2 separate regions of the Homo sapiens genome follow, and region 2 is linked to region 1. The links come from fine-mapping of genetic effects on gene expression. Tissue or cell type: whole blood. Region 1 holds a variant in brackets; the other region holds the start of a gene. All regions are shown on one strand. Distances are from middle to middle.

Region 1 (8,000 bases):
TGCACGCTCACAAGTGTACACTCGCGAGGGCTGCTGTCACCACCTCCCCTCCGCTCTCGCACACCCTACTCATAGCCACTCACAATCTCCACCCATACCTCCTTGGCTCCCCCAAATCGCACCCAGGGGAACAAAAGTCACACAGTGCTCCCCATGCACGCAGAACAAACACATCCCTTACACAATTATGCCCACTCATTACTTAAACGAACACTTCCCACCCCAGCCTCTCGCACTCAGTGACCAAAGTCACTTAATGACTCGCACACACACCAACAAAGAACTCACAAGTTTCTCCTACAAAGTCATCCTTCCACAGCTATTCACAATGGTTTCCAACCTTCTCACCCAGGCCCAACACATCGCATTTTCCTGACATAGTATTCAACAGAACCTATAGATCTCATATGCTACGGGAATCACCTGCACAGCCCTTACACACTCACAAATACACAGAAGGACAACAGGTACCACACTCCCATTCACAAGCACACATGCCCACACAGAACACACACCTTTCTCCTACATACAAATACTCCCAGGACAATGGTTACCGGTTGCCACATCCCTCACACATATGTATGTGTGTGCATATGCACACACTCCCATCCAGAAATATACCTCACATGCACACACAAAGACACCCCACAATGCAGCCGAGGCCGTCCCCCTCCAGAAATGAGAGCAATTGGAACCCAAGCAGTCACCTGTAGGGGCACAGCCATCACACACACCGGGGCTGTTTCTGATGGCCCCCGCAGGGCTGACGAAGGGAGGCCAGGAGCTGGGAAGCATGGTCTTCCACCTCCCCAAACCCTACCACCCTGCTGCCCACACCAGCTGCCCACTACTTCTGTGTGCACGCCTCTCTGCCAAGCCACATCCTGTGTCACCTTCGCTTTCATCCTCCCCTCTTGGGTTCTGGCAGCCCGTTTTCCAGCCTTAGTCAGCCGCAAATAGCCAATGCTTAGGGCTGTGACCTGCGGACAAGCCTGTGATTTTGAGGAAGAACCAGCACCCCGAGGCCCAGAACCCTCTCCCAGTTTCCTGCAAGTTGGGAGAAGGTCTGATCAGGGAGGTGGGGCTCCAGCCCTCCAGCCAGCAGCTGGTGCCAGGGTGGCCAGGAGGAGGGCAGATCAATCCCCAAGTATGCCTGACAACTGGCCTCTGGGGTGCATGGGTCCTTTTGGGGAAGTTTCCCAATGGCTCTTACTCCAAGCTCTGAGAGAAGAGATCAGAGGCAACTGAAGACCCCACGGAGTCTCCACAAGGCCTTGCAGCTGGGTCAGAAATCTCCAGCATCCAGTGCCACACTCCTGGGGGGGCTCCTCTTCCCAGATCCCCCCACTGCTAGCTTGCTCAACTCCTGGCCTCTCTCGAGCTCAGTTCCTCCACACAGTCCAAACATCAGAGCTCCCTGCACCCTGCCAATAACTCCTTTGCCCTACTCTGTGCCTCTGCAGAGTGCTGGATGACAGATGGGTGACCCTACTTCTGTCACCCCCATCTCAGATAAAAGGCTCATAGAGGGACAGAGGTCCCATGCCCACTCCCAGGCCACCCCTTGTACCTACTGTGTCTGGGGTGCCTCTGATGGGATCTGTGGCACGTCCCAGGAGCGGTAGCGCCACATCTGCCTCAGTGACCCCGGCCGCTCCCCTTCTTCCGTCCCCAGCGCCTCCACTGGGCCCAGAGCTGAGGATTCATTGCAGCTTCCCCCGGCACTGTGGCCAGCCCCCGGTGCGCTCATCCTGCCCGGCGACTCTCTTCCTCTTTCGGCACTTCCTGACGGGGGTGGGGTCGAGGGGGGGGCCTGCTAGAGGCCGCTGGCCGCCCAAGCTGAGGACCACAGGCTCAGGGCTCATAGGCGCCTTCCGCTGGCTGGGGCCAGCTGCCGTGAAGAGCTGCACAAGAAAGCAAGGGGCAGGTGGGGACAAGCCCAGACCAGCAGCCAGGAGGCAGCCATGGGGCTTGCTTGGGCTGGAATCTGCACCTGGGCTCCTGTCTGGTTTTCCTCTCCATTTAAACTGTCTGATTTTCAACTCTTGGTCCTGCTGAGGTCTCCCGCTTTATGACAACCACCAGGTACAATGGCTGGGTGTGCCCAGCCCTCAAAGAGCGCTCTCTTCCTAGCACTTCTGTGTGCAGCATACCATCTTACACAGGGCTGGGCATACAGGAAGGTGGTGTAGAGAAATGAGCAATGAGGATGGAGCCTGGAGACATGAGCATGTGTCCTGTTCTGCCTCTTACCAGCTCTGTGTGGCCTGGATCAGGTCATAAACCTCTCGGAGTCCTCTAAATAACTTTTGGGACAAGGTAGCCTATAAACAAATAAACTAATGAATACATGTGCCAGGGAGATTTTCTGAGCCTCAGTTTTCTCATCTGTAAAGTGGAGTAATAGGCCAGGCATGGTGGCTCACACCTGTAATCCCAACACTTTGGGAGGCCGAGGTGGGCAGATCACCTGAGCTCAGGAGTTTGAGACCAGTCTGGCCAACATGGTGAAACCCCATTTCTACTAAAAATACAAAAATTAGCCCGGCGTGGTGGCAGGTGCCTGTAATCACAGCTACTTGGGAGGCTGAGGCAGGAGAATCGCTTGAACCTGGGAGGTGGAGGTTGTGATGAGCCGAGTTCGCGCCACTGCACTCCAGCCTGGGTGACAAGAGTGAGACACTGTCTCCAAAAAAAAAAAAAAAAAATTGAGCTCATGGTGTTATCTGAGGAATAAAGAAGAGATAGGAAGGTTGACAAATTAATTCATTCAATAAATACTTATTGAATGCCTTCTGTGCATCAGGCACCGTATCGGAGAACATAGCTCTAAAAACAAGGAAGCAGGGCTCTGTCCTCACAGAGCTTAGATTCTAGTGGGGAAGACATTCAGGAAACAAACAATCTATGTACAATATAATGTCAGCAAACAAGATGTGCCATAAAGATTGGGAGGCTGAGGCTGGTGGGTTACTTGAGGTCAGGAGTTTGAGACTAGCCTGGCCAACATGGTGAAACCCCCTGTCTACTAAAAGTACAAAAACTAGCTGGGTGTGGTGGTGGACATCCGTAATCCCAGCTACTCTGGAGGCT[G/C]AGGCAGGAGAATCGTTTGAATTCGGGAGGCGGAGTTTGCAGTAAGCTGAAATCACACCACTGCACTCTAGCCTGGGCAACAGAATGAGACTCTGTCTAAAAAAAAAAAAAGATGTGCTATAAAGAAAAATGAAGCCAAAGGAAGGGAGAAGAGTGATGAGAGTGACTTAGGCAGGGGGAGGGGATCAGGGAGGGCCTCTCTGGGGAGGTGATATTTGAGAGCAGACCTGAATGAATGGGGAGCGTGAGCTATGTGACTTACCTGGGAGAATAGCATTCTAGGTGGAAGTAGAGTCAGAGCAAAGGCATGGAACAAAGAATGTATTTGTGTCTGGAGAATTGCAAAAAGGCCAGCATGGCCAGAGAACAGGGAGCCAGGGGGAATGCGTTAGGAGCTGGAAAGATCTCCAGAGGCCAAACTGTGCTGGAGTTCAAGGCCATTGTGAGGATTTGGTAAATAAATACTAGGGCATATATTCACTCTTTATTCTTAGGACTGGTTCTAGGAAGGAAACTGTACCTTCCTCAAGCATTCTTTAATCGCCCTGCTCTATAACTAGTTCTTTAGTTGTATATGTGTTTGTTACTGTGAATTTCTTGAGGACAGAAACAGCATCAGTTCAGTTCAGTAAACATTTATGCTACAGAACCCTTCAAGATGCTATCCCGACCCTTAAAAACCTCCATCTGGTGCTGTAATCACCTTTGTGTCCCTCATGATGGGAACATAATATTTTTCAGTAAATATTTGTTTAATAAATGCATGCTATGCAATTAATAATTAATACTCAGTAATCATAAAACAATGGCTAATAGTTCCTGAACATTTCTGTGCCAAAAATCTTACTGAATATGTAACGTAGCTCTTTGAATCCTCTTAATGACTCTAGGAGGTAGATCTTGTTATTTTCCTCCTTTTTTTGCTTTTTTTTTGTTTTTTTTTGAGACTGAGCCTCACTCTGTCACCCAGGCTGGAGTGTAGTGGCGTGATCTCTGCTTACTACATCCTCTGCCTCCCAGGTTCAAGCGATTCTTGTGCCTCAACCCCCAGAGTAGCTTGGATCACAGGCGTGCGCTACCATGCCCAGCTAATTTTTGTATTTTTAGTAGAGACGGAGTTTCACCATGTTGACCAGGCTGGTCTTGAATTCCTGACCTCAAGTGATCTGCCCGCCTTGGCCTCCCAAAGTCCTGGGATTACAGGCATGAGCCACCGCACCTGGCCTTATTTTCCTCCTTTTACAGATGGGGAAATCAAGGCACAGGGCTGCTAAGCTTACCTGTCTAAGGTCACCCAGCTGGTAAGTGGTAGAAGTGAGAATCTAGCCCCAGAATCTGTGCTCTTAAATAAAACATCCTATTGCTGCTCTAAGGTAGGGGATATGGCCATGTAATGCCCCCAAGGCTCAGTCCCCACTTTTCCACGTTTCCTCTCCAACCCATTATCTCTGAATGCCTCAAGATGGGTTCTATATGCTGTGGCCTCATCGGAGACTGTGTCCACCAGACCAAGGTCTATTCTGGAAGGAGGCTGTGCAGGGCCCTGCCTTCCTCTTGCAGGCATTTTGCAAGTAGCTCGAGCAGTTAAACAGAGGAAATGGGGCTGGGCTTGTTTTCCATCTGAGGCGTCTGGCAGCCCTGGAGCTGCAGAGAGCAGGAAATGGGGCTCCTGGAGGGGAAGCAGGCAGGCTGGAGGCTTCAAGAAGCAGGGCAGTCCTGACTGTGAGACTAGGGCCACCTTGAACTTGCACTCCTTGGCGCTGTCAATGTCATCTCTGCTTTCCAGGTGGGGTGGGGAGGACACGGCTGGAAGGGACAGGTGCATGGGACTATGGAGGATGCCCTTGGCAGTTCCTAGGACAACATGTGCCAGCCCTGGGAAGCTGGGGACCCCTCAGAATCCACCCAGGTACACACAGGAAGAAGAATCTGGGTAAGAAAATTATTCTGGGCTTTGTTGAGGCCCCAGAGGTTGGTGTTCTACTTTCTGTGGCCTGGATGAGCAAGTGGGAGCTGGGGAAAAGAAATGTACCAGGGCAACAAACACTCAACCCACGACCTGGACATCCTCTGCTGTCAAAACCCGCCCAGCCAGCCTCCTTGGCCTGACCTTCGCGGCTCCTTACGTTCTCTGGCTGTTCTTGCTTTTCCGCCTCTTTGTCCAGGCTTTCCCTGCAGAGATTTTCTCTCAGCTCATGCCATGCTAGTGCCTGCCTCATAGTAGGTGCTAAATGAACCTCCCCTCCTCCCCCTTTTCGCATTCCCTTCACATGTGGCCCTAACCCCTGCCATTCCCTTTGCCTATGTTGCACTCCTAGGTTGTCTTCCCTGAGTATTTGGCCAATCACATTCTCCATCCTTCAGACCCAGCCCAAGCAGCAAAAGTGGGAAGGTAGAAAGAGCCGCAGACATGGAGTCCATTGGTTCACACTCCAGCCCTTGCTGTGTGACTGTGGGCCAGTCATTACCCTCTCTGGGTTGGACCAGATGATTTCTAAGATCTGCTCTAGATCTGACAGTTCCATTTGAATCTTCTTTCCTGATTTCCAAGTTTTTGGTCATTCATTCCTTCATTCATTTGTACGACAAATATTTCATAAATATCTACCAAGTGTCAAACACTTCTCCTGAACTGGCATTCCACCCCACCTGCTGATCCCTTACCTATGATGCTCACTTTTGTTCCCAATGATATTCCTGTATCATCTGACTTTTTGTGCACTTAGTCTTGCTTCCTTACAAAATTCTTGAACCTTATGTTGCTCCTAGCTCAGTGCTGGGTACATGAGTTTGTGCTCAGTGACTTCCTATGGAAGTTGCCATGGGTTGAATACAGGTGTTCAGAAGGCTGGGCAGAGGGAGGGAGGGAGACTGGCTTCTTGTTTGCCTAAGTGGCCATGGTGAGACATGGAGAGTTTGGAGACAGAGCCTTGCTCTGTTGCCCTGGCTGGAGTGCAGTGGCATGATCTCAGCTCACTGCAACCTCCGCCTCTCAGGTTCAAGCGATTCTCCTGCCTCAGCCTCCTAAGTAGCTGGGATTACAAGTATGTCCCACCACACCTGGCAATTTTTGTATTTTTAGTAGAGACAGGGTTTCGCCATGTTGCCCAGGCTGGTCTCATACTCCTGGCCTCAAGTGATTGGCCCGCCCTGGCCTTCCAACATTCTGGGATTACAGGCGTGAGCCACCATGCCTGTCCTACAAGGATTTTGAAGTTTAAGTGCATGCCTCCCCATTAGCTATGCCTGTGATCTGGGCACCTGCTGAAGCCTTTGGGAGCAACCCAGAGCCTGGGATCACCTGCTGATCACTGGCCCCTGCTGAAGTGCTGGGCCTCTGCCCCCACAGAGGAGACAGATGTGTCTGAGCTGGGTTGCAGGTGCTGCTGGCTAGTGACAGATGGACATTTGACTAGGTTCCTTTTGGGTAGCTTCACGAAAGTCATGAGCAGGAGGAAACCTGGAGGAGGGGCTGGAGACCCTCTCCTGCTGAGGCAAGAGAGCTGCAGGCACAGCACTGGCGGCCCAGCAGCCAAAGGTGGTCCTTCAAACCACCATGTCTCTTGAAAGCTGTCCTTTGGCACCTCCCAATTTCCTGGATTGGAGGTGAGAGAGGAGCCTGCACAGCTCTCCCCTTAGTCTGGGTCAGCTGCATCTGCTCAAAAGTTTCCATCTGTCCCCACCCTGGACTACACCAAGCCCCCACGACACGGTCAGTGTGTCTCCTGCCTTCCAAGCCTCCCACTCACATCTGTAGGGTCATAAGCCCTGATTGCATAGCTACCTTTCAGCCCCCTTACTACCTATCCTATTACCACACCCAGAGATATGTACACTTTGTACAGAGCCAAAAGCAAGATCCTCAAGGATGAAAGTCTAGGCCTTTGCAAGCCTGACAGAGTAAAAAGGGCTTTGGAGAGAAACAGATCTCAGTCTGGATCCTGGCTCCACCAGTTACTGGCTCTGTGATCTCAACACATTGCTTAACTTCTGCCAACCTTAGCTCCTCATTTGTAAGCTGCGGCCCAGTGGCCTCCAAAGCACTGCCTACTCTGCAATCTCTGATTAGCCTTTTCCAGGCATCTATAGGCCGAGAGCCCTTGTCAGTCACACTGGAGCCCTGCAGAAGCCTAGAGTCCAGTCCCAGTTCCTTCCCCACCCTCTTTGTATGTCATTGAAGAGAGGTTTTCTCCAGTTGGTACTAACCCTTGTCCCTGGCACCCTGGACCTTGGAGGGGCCTTTCTGAAAACTCTGAAAGGCACCAACTGAGGCAAAAATGAGACTCCACTCCAGGCTTCCCCATGCTTGGCCCACAGGCCACCATCTCAGCAGGCCACCAAATAAGTTCTTCAAATGCCATTGATCAAACTGGCCTTCCCAGGTTCCCTCCAAAATGCCCAAGTGGCTGTGCCCCTTGGTGCGGGGACTGGGGGACATGGGCTGCTGGGGGCACGTCCCAAGCTCCTTGTGCCAAAATGAGGTCAGATAAGACCCTCTCCTGGGATCCCGATCCCTGCACGTTGGCCTCTGGGACAGTGTGGCACTGCCCTCTCTGGCCTTTGACTCACTGATCAGCAAGAACTGCAGGTCCCTGAGGGGAGGGAAGGAGTTCCGGGCTGGGCCTGGGCCCCGCCCTTTTCAAAGGAAAGAAAATTGATGGACCCCAGGCTTCCTCTGGCCGTGGTCCCCTCCCCCTGCTCAGCTCAGCTCTCTGCCCCTGGTTTTGCATTGTTAATTCAGGACAGAATGTGATCTCTGGCAGCTCCTTGCTTTATCCTGTTGCTATTTAAATTACAAATCGGCCCCATCTCCCTGTCACTCTTGGGTTATTTTTAGCTTCTGGTAAATAGCCGCAGGGAGAGTTGGATCAGGTGCCCCTCCCTTGAGGAGTCGTGGACCCGCAGCA
Region 2 (8,000 bases), 38 kb before region 1:
GGCCCGCAAGTTCGCCAGCATCGCTCGCAACCAGGTGCGCAAGAAGCGGCAGATGGCGGCCCGGGAGCGCAAAGTGACACGAACGATCTTTGCCATTCTGCTAGCCTTCATCCTCACCTGGACGCCCTACAACGTCATGGTCCTGGTGAACACCTTCTGCCAGAGCTGCATCCCTGACACGGTGTGGTCCATTGGCTACTGGCTCTGCTACGTCAACAGCACCATCAACCCTGCCTGCTATGCTCTGTGCAACGCCACCTTTAAAAAGACCTTCCGGCACCTGCTGCTGTGCCAGTATCGGAACATCGGCACTGCCAGGTAGGCAGGCAGGAGTGCCCTAGGAGGTGCTGGTGTTGCGTGCGTGTGCTGGGGGGACCACACGGCTCACTTGCTGTGGGGAAGAGTTGCAGGCACCATTCTGCGTTCACGTTTGCTGAGGAGGAAGTTCAGAAGAGGCTCTGTGGCTGCATTCAGAGACCAGATCTCTGCTCAGGCTGAGGAGGCTCACCCCAGGGAGTGTCTGAACTGGGGCTGCCTGGCCCACCTCTGTGGCCCTGCTTCAGCGAGCTGCGGGGCACTGGCCTGGGTGGGCACCTGCCCCACTGTGACCAACCATCAGCAGTGCTGGAAGAATGGACATCTGGATGGGGGCCGAAGCCCAGGGCCCCCTCAGGAAGAACAAAGGGGCCAGTGCTTGGAAAAGGAGGCTTGGGAAGGGAGTAGAAGGGTGGGGTCCCCCATTCTGCTGTAATCGGTGCTTTCTGCCCCCTTGCACCCCGCATGTAGGCTCAGCCCCCTCTCCCCAAATCCCACTCCAGGGGCAGAAATCTCCTCTGGCTGCAGCTACTTAGCCAGGTTCTGGGTGGGTATGATGGAGGCCAGGTCCCCCCCGCCCCAGCAGCACTGCCCTTGTCACATTAAGATGGGGCAGCTGGGAGGTCAGAGGTTCTGTCTCAGGAACTGAGGTCTGGCCTTCTGCGATCCCAGGCTGAGCCGTGAGTGGTCCACGTATTCAGAAGACAGCCCCCTGCAGCCCCGGCCTTAGAAGGCTGTCCCAGGTCACACATCGAGTCAGGGTGAGGCTGTGGTGGATGGCATTCCCATCTGCCCTCTTCAAACCTCTCACCCCCTGGCTTCTGCAGGGTGGAGGCCTGGGTCACACAGGCAAGAGGAAAGGGGTCAACCTGGTGGCTCACTCGGGTTTCCATGACAGTGGGAAGGGGGGAGGTGGGCAGTGAGGTAGGCACGCAGCCCTCGCATCTGCTCTCCCCCATGGGTAGAACCTTCCTGATTGGCTGTGGGTTGTATCAAAAGACCTTTGACTGGGTGAGGCTGAGATGGGTGTGGTGGTTCCAGTGAGTCAGCCAGGTTCCCTTCCCCAGCCCTGGTCCCTGAGGGAGATGAGGACCGAAAGGCTTAGGTGACTTGATGGGGAGCACCCTTTCAGGGGCCCTGGAAGAAATGTTTGTAATTGTTCTGCTTTTTCCATGAGCTCTGGAGAGCACCCACCACCAAGCCCCCTGAAACCCACCAGTCCCTACAGCCTGGTCTTTCTCCCCACCTTCCCACTCCCAAACACATTTCCACAGCAAACTCCTTGGGAAGGGGCTTTTATATATTAAAAAAGAAGAGCTTTTATTGGGGGGAAAAAGTCAGTTTATTTGATGTGTTTCTTAGTAATGGAATTGTGGGGAAGAACAAAAGCGGGCTCTGGGACTCACATTGCTTTGGGGGAGGCTCAAGCTTCCCAGAATCCCTTGTCCCTCCCCACTTTGGGCACTTAGGGGTGGGGCTGGGGAGTGAGAGGGACAAGGCAGGGCATGATTGATTAAAGCTAACGAGCAGACAGAAGGCACTGGTGGGTCACATCTCGGGCCTGGGAGAGGGAGGGCGTGGGCCAGGCCCCATGTGACACCAGGGGCTCCTTGGCATCCAGGCTTGGCGTCTAGTCCTTTCCCTTCCCTTTCTTGGCTGTAAAACAAGAAAGAAATATTAATACCATATCAGCAGTTAGGCTGACCCATTGCAGACCGCCGGCTCCACAAACACCCGGGCATCAGGGAAGGAGAAGATTCTGCCCCCTAGTGGTTTCCAATCAGCTGACTCGGAAGCAGGGGATGGGGCAGCCATTGTGATGTGGACATGGGACATCCCCAGCTTCCTATTTCCACTTGGGATCAGAAAACCTTCAAGTTTCCAGTCCTAGTCCTGGTCACAGCAGCCCTGGGCATCCTCAGCCTCCTCACCTGAGAAGCGGGCAGATTCACCCCTGCCCTGCTGGCCTCGCTGGGCTGAGTCACGAGTGAGCTGAGAGGCCCAGGGTGGGCCTTGACCTCCTCCCAACACTAGAAAGGGCAGAGCTGACCAAATGCTGCCCGTGGCTGGAGAGCTGACAAAGGCAAGCCGTTCCAGGACACTCTCCCTGGGTCCTAAGCCAGATGCTCCAATGGAGTAGTTTGAGTTGGTCCCTATTTGGGCCAGGGAGGATTTATGTCCCCAGCATCACCTGCGGCCTCTCTTGTAGTGCCCATCTTCAGACTTTTCCAGGCAGGGAAGCCAAGTGAGGCGATGTCAGGAAGCCACTGGCCAGGACTCAAAACTTAAGGTTTAACTTGGAATTGTCCCCTCACAGGCGGGGGGGGGGGGGGGCAGCCCCCCGCGACAGCCCCACCCCCTTCTCCTTTCGCTGACCTTTGGCCTTTGCTTTGGTCTTGGGGGTGCAGGGCTTGGTGACGCGGATGGTCTCCTGGCACTGAGCATTGTAGCGCGCCTTCTTCAGGGTGCCTTGGCGGACTTTGGTGCCTGTGCCCCCATCACACGCACCCCAGTTCTCAAACTTGTACTTGCAGTCGGCTGGCGAGAGAGCGGCCCAGGTCAGCGCTGCGCGGCCCGCGGCCCCGCCCTCCGCCAAGGGTCCGCCCAGGCTTCGGCGAGGCTGTGCCCCCCGTCTCCTGCCCTCTGACTGCGCCCCGCCTCACCTCCAAACTCCTTCTTCCAGTTGCAGGGCACCCTGCACCGGATGCGCTGGGTCTGGGCCCCGCAGGTGCCCTCGCGGAAACCCACGCCGCAATCCTTGCTGCTGGGGGTGCAGGGCCCCCAGGCCCACTCAGCGCACTCGCTCCCCGGGCCGCCCTTCTTCACCTTATCTACAACGCGCGAGGAACAGAGTTCAGGACTGGGGCACGGGGAGACTCCCTCGGGAGCCGCCTTCCTGGGGTTCCAGGCTAGGAACCCAGGCGGCCCAGCCCAGAAGTGGAGGGGCCTCGCCTGCCCGTCCCCAGCCCTCCTTCGATCATCCCCCATCACCTTTCTTTTTGGCGACCGCGGAGGTGAGCGCCAGCAGGGCGAGGAGGGTGAGGAGGAGGAAGCCTCGGTGCTGCATCCTGAGGGGAGAGCCCGAGTCTGAATCCCTGGCCCGTCCCCTTCCCCACCGGGGGCCGCGTGCAGGGCCCTCCCACCTCCGCGTGCTCCACTTTCCAGGCCCCAAGTCGGGCTGCTAAGGTGGCGGCGGTGGGAAGACTTGGGGCGGCCCCTCGCCGCTAGCCCGGACGCACCGCTAAGAGGCGACTCCCCGGGGGACGCCTCGAGCCCAGGACGCAGCTCAGACCCCCACCCCCGCCTCCAGCCCCCAGCCCCTAGATCGGCCGCGGCCGGGCGGACCAGGGGCCGCCGCGCGCTCACTCGCTCGCTGCCCGCGCTGCTTCGCTCCCTCCCGCGCCGGGCCCGTCCCGCTCCGGCCGCCGCGGCCCCTTTTGTCTCCAGAACCGGTCTGAGCCGGTCACATGGGCCCCCGCCCCCTCTCCCCACCCCCCCAGGGAAGGACCCGCCCCGCCCCCTCCCCTCAAACCCGCACCGCCCCCGACCCCGGCGTCCCCGCCCCCGCTCCAGCCCGCGCCCCCCGCGCTTCTACTCCGGCGTCCGTGTTCCCGGCCCCGCGTCCTCGCGTCTCCCCGCCGGTGCCCTCTGCGCTGCGACGGCGGCCTCTCCCGGCCCCATCTTCCGAGCGGTGGTCTCCCGACCCCGGGCCCCGTCCCGCCCGCGCACACCGGCCCCCGGCCCACTCCCTGCGCCGCCGCCCGCTGCCCCCATCCCAGGTCGTCCCCTGCCGTACGCCAAGGCCCGGGCCGTTCTCAGGCCTCAGCTTCTCTTGCCTGCCGCGGAGCCCCGGCGCCTGTATAACCCGCGGGACCCGCTCCCCTCCACGGCCGGCTCAGCCCTGGCGCCCTGCTGGCTGCTGGGGAGGGGGCGCGGCCCACCTGGGGCGGTTTCCGCGGGTGGGCAGGGAAGCGCTCTGCTGTGCTGGGGGGAGTCTGGGACCCGGTCGCCCAGAGAAAGCCACGGGTGCGGTCGCCCAGTGCCTTTCCGGGAGCACAGGCTTGAGGGACTGCGAGTGGGGGTCCTGGGGGAGGAGCCCGCAGGCCTGGATTTGGTGAAACTTGGCGCTGACAGGAGCCGTCTGAGAAGTTCCAGATCCAGCCACATCGGCAGCTGCAAGTGCCCACCCCCTCTAACCCTGGGCCTGTGGCATTGCCTCGCCCGGTTCCCCCAAACCGGGAGAGCCCCCGAGGCCTGGGGGAGGGGCTTGCTCAAGGCCACAGGGCAAATGGGCCACAGAACCCGGGCTCGCCCCCGCCCCACCCCTCTTTCACTTTCATTGTTGTTCTCCGCGGGAAGCGGGAAGCCGGAGGGATCGGCCCCGCCCCCGGCCCCGACGAGCGCGGCCGCCGGGCAGAGGTCAGGAACCGGGCAGGCCCTGGGACCAACCACCAAACGGGAGCCGGGGCCCCAGGAAGGTGCTGTCGACAGCGTCCAGTCCCCCACCCCGAGGACAACCCCGCAGCCCCCGCTGCTTGTTAGACCTCCCCCGCAAAAGAAGAAAAGCAGAAAAGAAAAAAAAATCCACTTTACTGAGTCACACCCAGCTGTAAACATGTCACCGTGAGAGTCCCGCCCCCCACCCCCAGGCCGCACAGTCCGCGATGAAATGACAGGGGAGCGGGGAGGGTCGCCGGAGCGGGTGCCAAGCAAGGCAGGGCAGGCAAGTGCAGCAGGCGCTGAGTTTCCGGGAGGAAGCCCGGAGGAGGTGGGGTGGGGCAGGAGCGGGGGCTGGGGACCCGGCCGAAGACCAGGGGGCCCAGGAAGCCTCTTCCCGAAGGCCTCCCCCTCTCCAGCCCCTCCACTCCTGGGAGGGCATCTGCTGCGGCCAGGGAGCGCCCTGCCCCAGAACCCCGGCAAAGGCATATCCAACCCAGCCGTGTCTTGTTCCCTGTGAGCCTCCGGGTCCGGCGGGGTCCTCAGGGGAACAGGTGAGGCCCCCCCAGCTCCTGAGTCCAGCCCTAGGTCTGGGCGGCTCCTTAGGGGGCGGCATGGGGCTCTTTCCCTGGGGCCTAGGTCCCCCCGTGGCCGTCCCACTGGAATGTGGCAGTGAGGTGGGCAAGGAAGGCGCTCGTCCCCTGGCCGCATTGTCCCTCCTGCTGCCCGTGGGCGGCCCGCTACACAGCCGTCTCCTGGTCCTCCCGCTGGATCATCTGGTAGTGCTGCCGGTTCTCCAGGTAGGCGGCCAGCTCGGTGTCCTGAGCCTTCTCAGCCCGCTGCCGGGGAGTGTCGCCCTGGAGGAGGGCGGAGCTGCGATCAGCAGGGGCCAGAGGCAGGCCTAACCCCTAGCAGGCTGAGAGGCAGGGGCTCTACCTCCCTGTGGCCTGGTCAGGGAGGGAGGCCTCTCTGCCCACCAGCTCCTCCCCTGCTGGCTCAGGTTTCCCAGGGTCTGGACTGTGTCTTCCCAGGGACAGCCCCCAGCCCCAGCTCCCGCCTAGGACCTTGGGAAAGGTTTGGTTGGTGCCCTCGTGGGCTCCCTGCCTGCCGTCTGCTCACCTGCTGGTCTGTCTTCATGAGCGAGGCCCCGGCCTCCACGATGTAGTGGCAGATGGTGCGCTGGCCCAGGGCCGCTGCTTGGTGCAAACAGGTCTCCCCGCTGGGGGAGCAGGGGCTGGCTGTGTACCCCATCCCGTCCCCTGATCCACCCATCTGTCTCCCAAGGGCCATCAGAAAGGGCAGGAAGTTCAGGGCTCTGGGGCAATAGGGGTGGCCCAGGGGATGACAGATGTGACCAGGAAGTTTATGGGCTCTGACCTGACAAAATGGGAGGGGTGGGGAAAAGGGTGGTTTCCGGGGTGACCACGGTTCTGCACTGCCCAGATACTTACTTTTCCTCCACCGCATCAAGGATCTCTGGGGGGGCTGGAGAAGGGGAGGTGGTGGTCAGAGAGGCCTGGCAGCCCCTCCTCCTCCCACCTTGGCCCCAGGCCCTGGGCTCCACTGCCCGGCTCACCGTGGTCCAGCAGGTAGCGGACCACATCCTTGCTGCCAGTGCTGACTGCGTGGTGCAGGAGCGTGCGACTCTGCTCGTCTCGGTGCATGAGGTCGCCCCCAGCTCGGTGCAGCTCCTGGAGCTGAGGGCAGGAGGCATGGCAGGGCTGGACCTCCTGGGGCCACCCCTCCTTCCCTGAGCTCACACGCTGGCCCACAGCCGGGTACACCAGCACAGGCCTGAAACGAGTGCGCTCACACATCTTACTCCTGAGTTGCCTCTGTGGGTCTCTCTGGAGCACACCGGAGGAGGGGCCTCTCACCCCACAGCCTGTGGGCTCTCTGGCAGCACTGGTGACCAAGCCCTGGAGCAGTGCTTCCTCTGACCTGCTCCTTTCTAAGCACCAGGGACAGGTGGACTGAGCTAGGAAGCCCCTACTAGGAGCCATCTATTGTGGCCTAGACAGAGATACAGTGAAGTGGAATGGGACGATCACTGGAGATCCCACAGAGGGCCAGACGATGACAGATGACAGCACCTGAGCAGGTCAGCTCTTGGCCCAACCCAGAGGCCTCGCTCCCCAGGGCCCGAGGGAGCTGCTGGGGGAAGGAACTGGAGCCTGGAGCTAGTACCTTACAGAAGTCGTTCCTCTTGGCAGCCTCAATCAGCTCTTCACCTGCACGGAATACCTGCCTGTTACTCTGCAGTCGGAGGCCTGGGCTTGGGTTGGTGCCTCAGTGGACAGGACTGTGCCGGCCAGGCATGTGTGCCCAGGGCTCCGTTGGTGCGTGAAGCTCAAAGGCTGTGTTTGTGTAAGGCTGTGTCTGGGCCCTATCCCCACCCCACTGAGCCTCCTGCCCCCAACCAGGCAGAAAGGAGGGGCCCCAGAGGGAGAGGCCTCACCTTGAGGGGGTGCAGCATCCCCTTGCAGTGACCTGCAACAGAGCATGATGTGCTGTGACCGGCTACGGCACAGGCCAGCTGGTCGCCCTCCCCAACCCCAACTGGGGGCATCTTCATCCTTTCCACAGTTTATTGAGTGCCTGCTACACACCAAGCACTATTCCAGGCACTGGGGATACAGCAGGGAAACGAGACAGAGGAAGGCCTTGCCCTCATGGAGCTTACATTCTAGTTCAGGGATACAAACAAGTCAAATAAATAAGGAGTTCTGAGAGCAGGGGTGCTCTTAAGAATTCAGAACAGGTGATGTGGCACCCCTGCAGAGGGGGTCCTGGGAGTGATCTCTCCAAGGAGGAAACAGCCAAGCTGAGATTCGAAGGGGATGGGGGTGGGGGAGCTCCGGAAAGATGGGGGAAGAGTTGGAGGCAGCGATGACAGAAGTCCAGTGGTGGCAAACACCTGATGCCTCAAAGAACCAAGAGAAGAGAGTGGGGCAGGACCATGGAGGTGAACTCAGGGAGGGGGCTGGGAGCCCAGTGCAATGACGGGGGGCCTGGGGAGAATCCACGTCCAAAGGGCTGCTGAGAAAGAAGCTTCTAGGTTGGGGAGTGGCCTGGTATGCTCTGCATTTTTAGTTGACCGTGGTATGGAGATGGGGGTTCGAGGGCACGAATGGCCACAGGGATATAAGAGCTGGGGGCCAGGGCGTGGCAGCCGGGAAGGGCTGGTGGCAGTAGGGGTGGGGAGGAGTGCTCAGGTGGTGGGTCCGGGGGCTGCCAGGACTGGCTGA

What was found. PIP is the estimated chance that this variant, and not a neighbour inherited with it, causes the effect.
Region 2: it holds the start of MDK, and the variant in region 1 is fine-mapped to the expression of MDK in whole blood (TOPMed, PIP above 0.99).

The regions. Positions count from the first base shown.
Region 1 is chr11:46,339,160-46,347,159 of GRCh38, reverse strand. It overlaps a transcript of DGKZ not described here. Among named protein-coding and RNA genes, the nearest start is that of DGKZ, 4.3 kb to the left of the region's middle. RefSeq lists enhancers at 775-824, 895-964, 1,667-1,961, 1,905-2,014, 7,292-8,000. The variant G/C (reference allele first, on the strand shown) is at 3,094.
Region 2 is chr11:46,377,440-46,385,439 of GRCh38, reverse strand. It overlaps MDK (midkine), which reads right to left and starts at 3,771. Exons shown (of 5, transcript NM_002391.6): 1 at 3,682-3,771; 2 at 3,307-3,383; 3 at 2,979-3,146; 4 at 2,692-2,853; 5 at 1,639-1,971. The coding sequence starts at 3,382. The coding sequence ends at 1,946. It overlaps DGKZ (diacylglycerol kinase zeta), which reads right to left. Exons shown (of 31, transcript NM_001199267.2): 26 at 7,211-7,242; 27 at 6,940-6,983; 28 at 6,329-6,449; 29 at 6,204-6,237; 30 at 5,872-5,971; 31 at 4,889-5,609. The coding sequence ends at 5,493. It overlaps CHRM4 (cholinergic receptor muscarinic 4), which reads left to right. Exons shown (of 2, transcript NM_000741.5): 2 at 1-1,651. The coding sequence ends at 322. RefSeq lists silencers at 2,787-3,081, 3,057-3,106, 3,527-3,636, 4,067-4,266, 4,697-4,906 and an enhancer at 4,406-5,040.